2 separate regions of the Homo sapiens genome follow, and region 2 is linked to region 1. A link means that fine-mapping ties the variant in region 1 to the expression of a gene that starts in the linked region. Tissue or cell type: pancreas. Region 1 holds a variant in brackets; the other region holds the start of a gene. All regions are shown on one strand. Distances are between the middles of the regions. Region 1 overlaps SLC25A21 (solute carrier family 25 member 21). Region 2 holds the start of MIPOL1 (mirror-image polydactyly 1).

Region 1 (5,388 bases):
GAAGGGCAATCATTAAGAAGTCAGGAAACAACAGGTGCTGGAGAGGATGTAGAGAAATAGGAACACTTTTACACTGTTGGTGGGACTGTAAACTAGTTCAACCACTGTGGAAGTCAGTGTGGCGATTCCTCAGGGATCCAGAACTAGAAATACCATTTGACCCAGCCATCCCATTACTGGGTATATACCCAAAGGACTATAAATCATGCTGCTATAAAGACACATGCACATGTATGTTTATTGCAGCACTATTCACAATAGCAAAGACTTGGAACCAACCCAAATGTCCAACAATGATAGACTGGATTAAGAAAATGTGGCACATATACACCATGGAATACTATGCAGCCATAAGAAATGATAAGTTCATGTCCTTTGTAGGGACATGGATGAAATTGGAAATCATCATTCTCAGTAAACTATCACAAGAACAAAAAACCAAACACCGCATATTCTCACTCATAGGTGGGAATTGAACAATGAGAACACATGGACACAGGAAGGGGAACATCACACTCTGGGGACAGTTGTGGGGTGGGGGGATGGGGGAGGGATAGCATTAGGAGATATACCTAATGCTAGATGACGAGTTAGTGGGTGCAGCGCACCAGCATGGCACATGTATACATATGTAACTAACCTGCACATTGTGCACATGTACCCTAAAACTTAAAGTATAATAATAATAAATAAATAAATAAATAAATAAAAAGAAATTTCTGTTGTTTATGCTGCCCAGTTTGTGGTGCATTTTTCTGGTAACCCCAGCAAATTTATATAAGGACTACAGATAATAATGAAAAAATACATATCTGATAGAATATTTACAATGTGTATAAACCATGATAACATCAAAGTGTCAAAATAATTGACACAAACATAATAAAAGATATTAATCACTTGGAAAATAACTATCTTCCAATTTAGATACAATAACAATATGAGAATGAAAACAAAAAAAGGAAATTGGTAAGAAAAATCGATCAAAATCTAGTACAACTGTAAAAATACTGCACCTTTAACCTGGTTCCTTTCATTCATTGCCATTTTAAAGATACCACCAGGGAAGGGTGAGTTGGGAGGAGTGGGGAGGATGAATAAAAGTGGGTTAAAGTGTATAAACATACAGGAAGAGAGAAGGAATAAATTCAATGTTTGATAGCAGAGTAGAATGATAACACTTTAAAATGTATAAATCATTTATACAGTATTGTTGTAAGTATTATCTAATGACTAGAATCCCTGAATATTTTTCTGTCTTCAGAGTAGGAACCTAAGAATATTCTATGGCTTAGACTTTTCATATTTATTTGTTAATATGATCAACAAACATTTCTGAGCCCCTACTTGCTATACTCTGAAACACCTGGTTCTCAATACCCTAAGAAGCTGTAGTCAAGGCTGGGGGCAAAAGGGAGGTGAGGAAGGGCTGGTTTAACCACATGTTTTTAAAATATTGTATAAAAGTTGTTTTAAGTTTTATGTCAGTTGAATCATATAGCCACATATTAAGGGTAGTTACACTTTTAAAACATCTTTCAGGAAGGTAGAGTAAAATAAGAAATCCTTTAAAATGTGGTATGCAACTCATATTTTGTTTGTTCTTAAATTCTGATTTTTGAGAACTAGATTTTCTTAAAGAGAGACAAGATTACATTTTACTTAAAATACATCCTTTAAAGGTATTTTATAATTAATTCGAGCAATAGGGTTGCTTCCTCCTATGTGCTTGAAATAAGGGTTATTTTTTTCTCCCTAATTACCCAGATAATGGGTTCCAGCCACCCTTTGATGTGTCATAAAGGCTCACCTGTTTCAGTACAACCTGCTATTTATTATCAAACAATTACAGTTTCCCAAATCCTGAATTTCCAAAGGTGCCATTTATCCAAATCACACGTGCATCCCCTTTGCACCATTTTGCAAAAGAATTTTCCTTGATCAAAATTTTAACCTTGATTACCCCCTGGTGTATCAGCCCTTTTATTACGTAGTTCAAATTAAAATCCAAAGGACTTCTAGTATACATACTATTAAGGCATCTATTTTAACTGTATTTTAACTATTAGAGTAAGAAAAAGGAGTAATCTTGTGAAAATGAAGATATGTAAGAAATTTGAAAACATCCTATATCTTTTTATTAGCCTTTTCAGGTTAAAAGCCTTGGACTCTCTCCCTATTAAAATATCACAGCATTTGCATATACTCTCAGATAATTAATCTCCCAAAAGCCTATTCATTAATTCCAGATTTCCCTCCCTCAAAAAAGTCTTTCATTTCACTCTTATTTGACTCTTTGAAGGTGATTAATGAGATAACACTACACAAAGTACTTGAACTGTGTTTAGTGCAAGATTGGAAAACTTGTTTCCAGAAAACTTTGAACTAAAACAATGAATTTAAATGAAAGCAATGAACTGCAGGGAGATGCACAAAGTAAAAACAGAGTAATTGATGGAGATGTGCTTATAAGCACCAGGGACTGGCTGGGTGCAGTGGCTCACGCCTGTAATCCCAGCACTTTGGGAGGCTGTGGCGGGCGGATCACTTGAGGTCAGGAGTTTGAGACCAACCTGGCCAACATGGCGAAACCTCATCTCTACTAAAAATACAAAAATTAGCCAGGCATGGTGGTGGGTGCCTATAATCCCAGCTACTCAGAAGGCTGAGGCAAAAGAATCGCTTGAACCTAGAAGGCTGAGGTTGCAGTGAGCCAAGATTGCGCCACTGTACTCCAGCCTGAGTGACAAAG[T/C]GAGACTCCGTCTCAAAAAAAAAAAAGATACCAGGGACTAAGGTAAGGCTGGAAAGGATGAAACAGCAACCTGGAAATTTTGGAAAATAAGTCAGTCTTGCCAGGATGGTGATCTCACATGCATGATATATAGAAGGTGATAATGCTGTAGAAGGCATTCAGAGTGGGACTGGCAGACTTTGGGGAATATGAGTAAAAGATTCTGGGAGGCAGGAGGAGGGTCCTGGAGTTGCCACTATGGAAGAAAATTCAGTGTGGACAAGGCTTAGGAGTGACCTCAGGAGGAAGCCTGACAGGTCCTAGTAAGAGCAGGACCACTCAGGGGGCTAAGATAACATTGTCACAGACCCTGGGAGGTTCTGAGGTTGGGTACAAAATCCCTGTGAGAGTCTGGGGAGAATGACCATCTGAGTGGGCCTGATCTTATATGACATGGGAAATAAGAACTACCCCGTGGTCTTTGGGAACACAGGGAAGGGTCCAAACTGATCATTAGGAAGAATGGGAAAGTCTGAGATGGACCCATGCTCCTAGCTCCAAGTTAGAGTTGATCAAGTACATGACAGGGGAGCCTCCTAGAGCCCTGTTGATATGCAGACAGAGTAATGATGTCATATGCAGGGGCTGCTGAGACCAGAGATCTTGGGATCCCTAACATGTTTAGGGGAATTCTGTCAGACCTTATGTCAATCCATTTGGTGTCTTTGTGAGAAACAGAAAAAGGTGTCCCTTCCCCCAAGTGAACACGTCTGTTCTAGGATGCACAAATCACGGAGCAGAGCATGTGCTAGATTTCAATTCCTACTTGCTCTCATGTCCAGATCCCTTTTTCAGTCCACAATGTGTCCAACTACATGTAGAGGCCCTGAATGGATGGAGAAGTAAAATAACTAAATTTTCTCTTGGCTAAAGGATAATGTTTGCCTAGATAGATGAAATGATTTGGAGTGAGCAAGGTACTACTTAATGGAAAGTCTGTATGGATTGTATTTGTAGGTAAAACAGTTATTTTAAGGAATATAAACTAATTACAGCTACAGCGATTATAAGAGTAGACTTGACTTCGTCTTTCCAACTCCTATAGAAATGGTTGCATGTATGTGCAACTATGGCATGTTCATTATTCCCCTGCGCATCAGTTTCTTCGTCTGTAAGTGGGGATTATTATAGTGCTTGCCTTGTGAAGTTGTGGAAAGGATTAAAAGTGTTAACACATGTAAAGCTTAGAACTGGATCCGGCATTTAGTATTTACTCAATAAATATTAGCTTATTTTATTATTTGCATCATTCATATGCTAATGAAAATGTTAAAGCTGGGTGGACTGTAGAGTCCATCTTGGAAACACTTATGCAGAAAATCATTTTCAATCTGGGCCTTGGAAAATGGATGGAATTTCAATAGGTAGAGATATATCTTCTTGATGAAGCTAGGAAAGTTCTTTGTAGGTGTTTTGAAGCCATTAGGCAAACAATTAGTGAGAGGAAATATTTGTATTTTATTTGGCACAATATCTCACCAGTTACCTTCTAATCCTGCTATATATTCTAACAGGGATCGAAAGCCTCTAGTCTTTCAGTTAAGAAAACCTGATGAATCAGATTGTTCCCTTATCTCCATACAAATAAAAATATTAGCTTCAAAAAAGAAAAAAAGTAAGGGGTAAGACATTCTAGGGGATCAGGAATAAAGGTGTAAAGTACTGGTAACAGTCAAGAATTGCCGGCAGACCTGTTCAGCAGAAACTGAACAAAATGTGTAGGAGAGGGTTGAAAAATAAGACTGAAAGCTAAATTGAGGGCATATAACAGGGAGTATGAAATTCATTCTTCTGTCTGGTCAGCAGTGAAAACCAAGAAAGATTTCACTTGCGCAATTTGGCTTTGACCTTCCCCCTCTATAGAGTCTTTTTTTCTCAAAGGTCTTCTACACAGTGCTTCTAAACTTTAAAGTGCAAATCAATGACTTGGGGCCCTTCCAAAAACGCAGATTCCGATATGGTAGTGAAACTGCCATTGCAAAATTGTAACTGAGACAGTGAAATAAATCTGACCTAAGCAACTCCATCTTGCTTCTAACCTCCAAGCTGTCCTTGTTCATTCCTGGGTATAGGCCAAACTAACTTTGGGAGGAACTTCATTTATAGTTTACAGTTTAAAACAAAGATGGTAACAGCCCTTTCCCAAGACAGAACCCCTTCTTGCCTGGAGACTAGACTGCCTTTGTGGGACTAACAAATTAGCCAAAAGATTAGAAATTATGGTTTAGGAGTCATGCAGCTGGAGGTTACAAGATTCTGACCCTTCCCAAGTCGCTCCTGGGGATAACATCACTATTGTGAAGCCTAAGATCAGGGCTTGAGATATTTTGCAGACCCTGCGTTTGATGGATCAGCTGGCATCACCTAGATCTAACTGGTTCTTGTGATCTTGTGGCCCCCACCCAGGAACTGACTCAGCATAAGACAGCTTCGACTCCCTATGATTTCATCTCCGACCTGACCAATCAGCACTCCTGACTCTCTAGCTGCACCGCTCCCCCCACCCCCTAATGCTTGGGGAGACTGATTTGAGTAACAATAAAACTCCAGTCTCCCACACAGCTGGCTCTGAGTGAATTACTCTTTCTCTATTGCAA
Region 2 (5,388 bases), 32 kb after region 1:
CTGGCATGGTGACTCATGCATGTAATCCGAGCACTTTGGGAGGCCAAAGTGGGAGGACTGCTTGAGGCCAGGACTTTGATACCAGCCCCAGCAACATAGTGAGTCCCCAACTCTATTTTTAAAAAAGACCTTTCATAATCTCTCCAACTTCATTTCCCACCACTTTCCATGTTAAATTTTATACTGTGATATTAAATTGCTTATAGCTCCTTACAGTATCTCACTCCCATATTGATTCCTTTATAAGGAATTCTGTTTTCTCTGCACCTCCACCCTCACCTCTTCACCTTGCTAAGTCTTATTCATACTACAGGAGGCATTATCTCCTTCAGATTTTCCTGACTCTGTCTTCCTCATCCCCTGAACTCCCCTCTCCCAAAGCCATTTCTCAGTTTACACAGTGTGATGGTTAATTTTGTCAACTTGGCTGGGCCATGGTGCACAGATATTTGGTGAAACGTTATCCTGGATGCTTCTGTGAAGGTGTTTTTTTGATGAGATTACCATTTAAATCACCAGACTTTGAATACAACAGATTACATTCCATGTATGTCCAACTACAATTCTTTTCTGAGGCTTGCCCGCCTCTTCCCTCAGATTTTGGACTCACTAAAAGTCCACAACTGCATGAGCCATTTCCTTACAATAAATCACTGTCCCTCTCTCTATGTAGTCTCTGTGTATACACACATATCCTGTTTGTTCTGTTTCTCTGGAGAACCCTGATTAATACATATGGTATTCTCAGCTACTTGTGTGCCTAATTGTTATTCATTATTTTATTTGCAGAACTGATCAGTGTGTGACACACTGCAGAAGCCTAATATTTATAGACTTGAGAATATTAATGATCTGACATTAACAGACTTGATAATATTAATAATATGACATTCTTTTTCTCCCTGTAACGAAAGAGTGGTTCATTTTCTTCTTCTCATCTTCATCCATATTTCTGTAAAAGTCCAGCTTGTATGAGGTATGAGGACATAGACAATATCTTTGATAATCATTTTGAGAAAAGAAAAAAGCTCTAATTTATCTCTTTCATTTCTTATAGACAGGCAACTGTTAGAACAATAGAAAATGAAGAAATGGATATGTTGGTTATGGTGGTGGTGGAGGGGAGTAGGGGAAAACTTACCTGTTGTGGTATCAAAAGTTTAGGGAAAGAACATTAATGAGTTACTTCAGGTATGTTAGGGAAAAAGGAAAAAGAATAGGGAGAATTAGTCCTAATGTTTGAACTCACTGCATAAAACAGAGAGAGAGAGAGAGAAAATCAGCTTACTAAAAGGAAAGAAAATATGAGGTTTCTCTTTATGCCAGAGACTGTAAGCACCCAGATAATGGGCTTTAAAAAAAGGAGGAAATGAACTTTACTCAATGAAAAATATTATAATTTTTCTCTAAATTTATTCTACTAATTCATTACATGGTTTGAATGTTCTCATTGTGGTAGTCACTATCCTGTTTTATTTATTATTTCCTAGCCAGGAAAATCAACTTTTTCCTTTGTTTTACACATAATTTGATTTGGCCCTAAGCCTTTGCACAAGCTATATACTTCCTGATTGGAGTATTTGCTCTGATAAACTGTACACTCTTTGTTTTTGTCTCATAGATTTTTATGGTACTTTATGTTCATAAATATGATTCAAATCCTGACTGAAGTAAAGCAAAAAAGAAAAAAGCATTTCAAAGCTGAATCTGTAACAAACTTCTTGAGAACACTGTTCATTACAGCATACATAACGAAAATTTGGTGAATATTATAACCTCTGTTGTTCCAAGTTAATCTACGTCCAACTTTTCCATTTTGTTAGTTTTCACAGCGTCATGCTCTGTCCCCCAGGCTGGGGTGCAGTGGCGCCAGCCATCGTAGCTTATTTCAGTCTCCACCTCTGGGGCTCAAGCGATTCTCCCACCTCATCCTCCCTAGTAGCTGGGACTACGGGTATGCACCATCATGCCCAGCTAATTTTTTTGATTTTTAATAAAGTCAAGGTCTCGCCATGTTGTCCAGGCTGGTCTCGAACTCCTGGGCTCAAGCGATCCCACTGCCTCAGCCTTCCAAAGTGTTGGGACTACAGGCGTAAGCCACCGCGCCCGGCCTTTTTCAGTTTTTTAAACTCTCTTTTGTACACTTACTAAAGGATAAGTTCCTTTCATTAACTTTAACCACAAATTTAGGAACCCGTCAGCACCTCATATTATGCCTATTCTCTGGGGTGTATTAAAAAATATTATTGCTTATTACTCAGCACCCAGAAGAGTACCTGGCACATGGTATGTGGTCACTAAGTATTTGGTGTCTGAAGGAATCATGAGTAACAGGAGTTAAAGTGACATTTATAAAACCAATTCTGAACTATGGAACAAAAAACCCAAATTTAAATTACTAGCAGTTAATTATACCATTCTTAGTTCACGGAGGTAGGCCAATTGAAAACTTTGGACATTTTTAAATTCTGTAAGGTTTAACATTTTTTCTTAGAGGATTCACATATCGTAATCTCATCCAGCACTTCAGTCAAAAAAAAAAAAAAAAAAAAAAGTCACCAGCTCCAAGGTTTTAGTGTGAAACGTTCTTTGGCCAGGATCTAGATAGTACTTTTGCTCACTCAACCGGAGCCCGATCTGGTGCCATTTTCACTTGACCGCCGCTTCGAAACACGTCCCTCCCACCTCTCATCCCAAACCACACACAAAGAAGGAAAGCACAATTTCGACAGGTCTTGGGAAAACTCGACGAGGCCAAGTATGAGGCCACAAGACACCGTTTTTAGTTCCGCGTTCTCCCTCTTCTAATCCTATTAGGTTTTGTCCAGACAACGTTTTGCTCTTTCAGAAGAGAAAGAGCGTTCTGCGCTCGTCGTCTTGGATTCGACAACCATAAGCATCCCGTTAGGGCAACCACCGCAGCAGACTAAGTTCGACTACTTTCTCTCCAAACTCCTCCCGGGCCTTCTTCCCAAGCTCTCTCTTTCTCCTGGAGGCCCCGCCTCGCGGCCCGGCAGCGCGGCACGCGCATGCCCGGTGCTCGCCGCTTGCGCTCTCCCCTGCGGCGCGCCGCCGCCCCGTAGGCCCCACGCGCCGCCCCGCTCCTCCGCCGGATCGTCTGTGGGTGAGTCTCGAGCCAGGAGGCTCTGAGCCAGTGGCGATTGGCTGACGCGGTGGCTGCGCACTCGGCCTGAGAAACTCGGCAAGCGCGCAGTGTCGACTCCCCGGTCTATGCCAGGCGCATCTCAGGTAAACGGTTGGGCAGGGAGGTTTGGGCGACGGAGAATGATAGTGGTGGGCACAGATCAGCCCTGGAGTTTTCGGCCGCAGACTTTTCCTTGGAGAAGGAGAAGGGGCCCCGCGGAATCTGTACTTAGTGAATGCTGACCCCGCGTGGCCGGGAGTGATGGGGCTCTCTCGAAGGTCAGTGTCGTGGGGTCCTCAGGTGGCAGACAGCTCTTTCTGGGTATGGTTTTGGTATTGTCTCCAGTTTCCTAATACTGGACCTGAGCAGCTGAGCATTTATTCAAGGGTGTATTTTTTTTGTTTTTTTCCCCTTAAGTCGCGGTTAGTCAGAAGGTTCCAGTCCTCGCTCAACCTCTGATCGACTCTGTGCCCATGAGAGAGTCGTTTTATATTTCATTTCTCACACGTGGAAGTGTGGGCGAAGAATGAGGGGCTTCTTTAAGCGCGCTAAGCCATGCTGTAAAAAGATACTGTTAGAATTTTTTTTTTTCTTTTTTGATTCACAATGTCCCTGGACCTGGTGCAACGTTTGGGAAGCATTTTAAGCTCTATGGATGGAGGGAACAAGACAGCCGCATTATTAGACAAGGATGGTAGAAAGGAACAACTTTCCACAAACACACGCGTTTGGAAAAGCTCCTTTGAGCATTTTATGCAGGTTAAATCACAGTGGTAGTAGATAGAAATAAGCCAAAACAAAGGGCCAAACAAAACTACATTTCAAGGAGGTGTTCTTTTCTTCCCCAGATAACTTGAATATACTATCACAAATTATTGGCGTTTCAAAGTTTTTCCTTGTGATCTGGTATGGAGTTCATCTAAAATGACAATTACATAATCATTCTATGCAATCGTATGCCAATAAAATTAATTAAAACAGTTTAATTTTTAATGTGAGGAATAGGAATCAAGACATGTCATTGATGGGAGGTAATGATGGCAATCAGCAAAATGAATGGGAGATGTATACAATTTTCCTTCAAAGGAGTAGAGTTTATAGAGATATTTTTATTGCGTTAATATTTAAAGTATAAAGACATACAGAAAAGTGCATGAATCGTAAGTGTACAGCTCGGTGAATTTTCACAAAGTGTAAATACCCATGTATCCAGTATCTAGATCAGGAAAGAGCATTATTGCATCCCGGAAGCCCCACTTCATGGTTCCAAAGGTAATCATTATCTGGACTTCCAACATTATCAATGAATTTCACCTATTATTTACTTTATATAAATGGAGTAATATGGTATTTAGTCCTTAGTTTCTGATTTTTGCTCAATATTTTATTTGTGAGATTTATTCAAGTTATGTAGCAGTTTGTTATTCTCATGCTGTATGTATAGTATTTCTAGTTTTTGGCTATTACCAATAGGGCTGCTATAAAGATTTTTAGAAATATTTTGATGAAATTATGTATACTTTTTTTTTTCTTCTTTTTTTTGAGATGGAGTCTCGCTCTGCCGCCAAGGCTGGAGTGCAGTGGCGCGATCTCGGCTTACTGCAACCTCCGCCTCCCGGGATCAAGCAATTCTCCTGTCTCAGCCTCCCGAGTAGCTGGGACTACAGGTGCCTACCACCACGCCTGGCTAAGTTTTGTATTTTTAGTAAAGACGGGGTTTCACCTTGTTGGTCAGGCTGGTCTCAAACTCCTGACCTCAGCTGATCCACCTGCCTCAGCATCCCAGAGTGCTGGGATTACAGGTGTGAACCATCGCGCCTGGCCATATGTACATTTTTATTGCGTATATGCCTACTAGAAAATTACTGTGTTACAGGATAGGCAGATGTGTGTTTGTGGTATACACTACTGAAAAGTTTTTCATATTGTGTCAATTTATACTTCAGTGGCAGCTTGAGAATTCTGGTTCCTCCAAATGCTTGCAACATTTCACACTGTCTTTTTCATTTTAGCCATTCTAGTAGGAATATAGTGACATAACATTGGGGTTTTCCCATAATTTCCCTAATGACTGATGGTATTGAACACATATTCATGTGTTTACTGGCATTTGGATATCCTCTATTTCTGTAAGGGACCAGACAATAAGTGTAGGCAGCCCTCGCTTTGTAGAGTTTCAGCTAACCAAGTAATGTGTGAAGCTCGGACTACCTGTATTTTAGGTTGTACAGGCTGTACAGTCT

Evidence for each region.
Region 2: it holds the start of MIPOL1, and the variant in region 1 is fine-mapped to the expression of MIPOL1 in pancreas (GTEx, PIP above 0.99).

What each region holds. Positions count from the first base shown.
Region 1 is chr14:37,162,611-37,167,998 of GRCh38, forward strand. All of the region lies in intron 1 of SLC25A21 (solute carrier family 25 member 21), which reads right to left. Among named protein-coding and RNA genes, the nearest start is that of SLC25A21-AS1, 6.7 kb to the right of the region's middle. RefSeq lists an enhancer at 5,085-5,388. The variant T/C (reference allele first, on the strand shown) is at 2,753.
Region 2 is chr14:37,194,856-37,200,243 of GRCh38, forward strand. MIPOL1 (mirror-image polydactyly 1) reads left to right here and starts at 3,082. Exons shown (of 13, transcript NM_001388067.1): 1 at 3,082-3,249.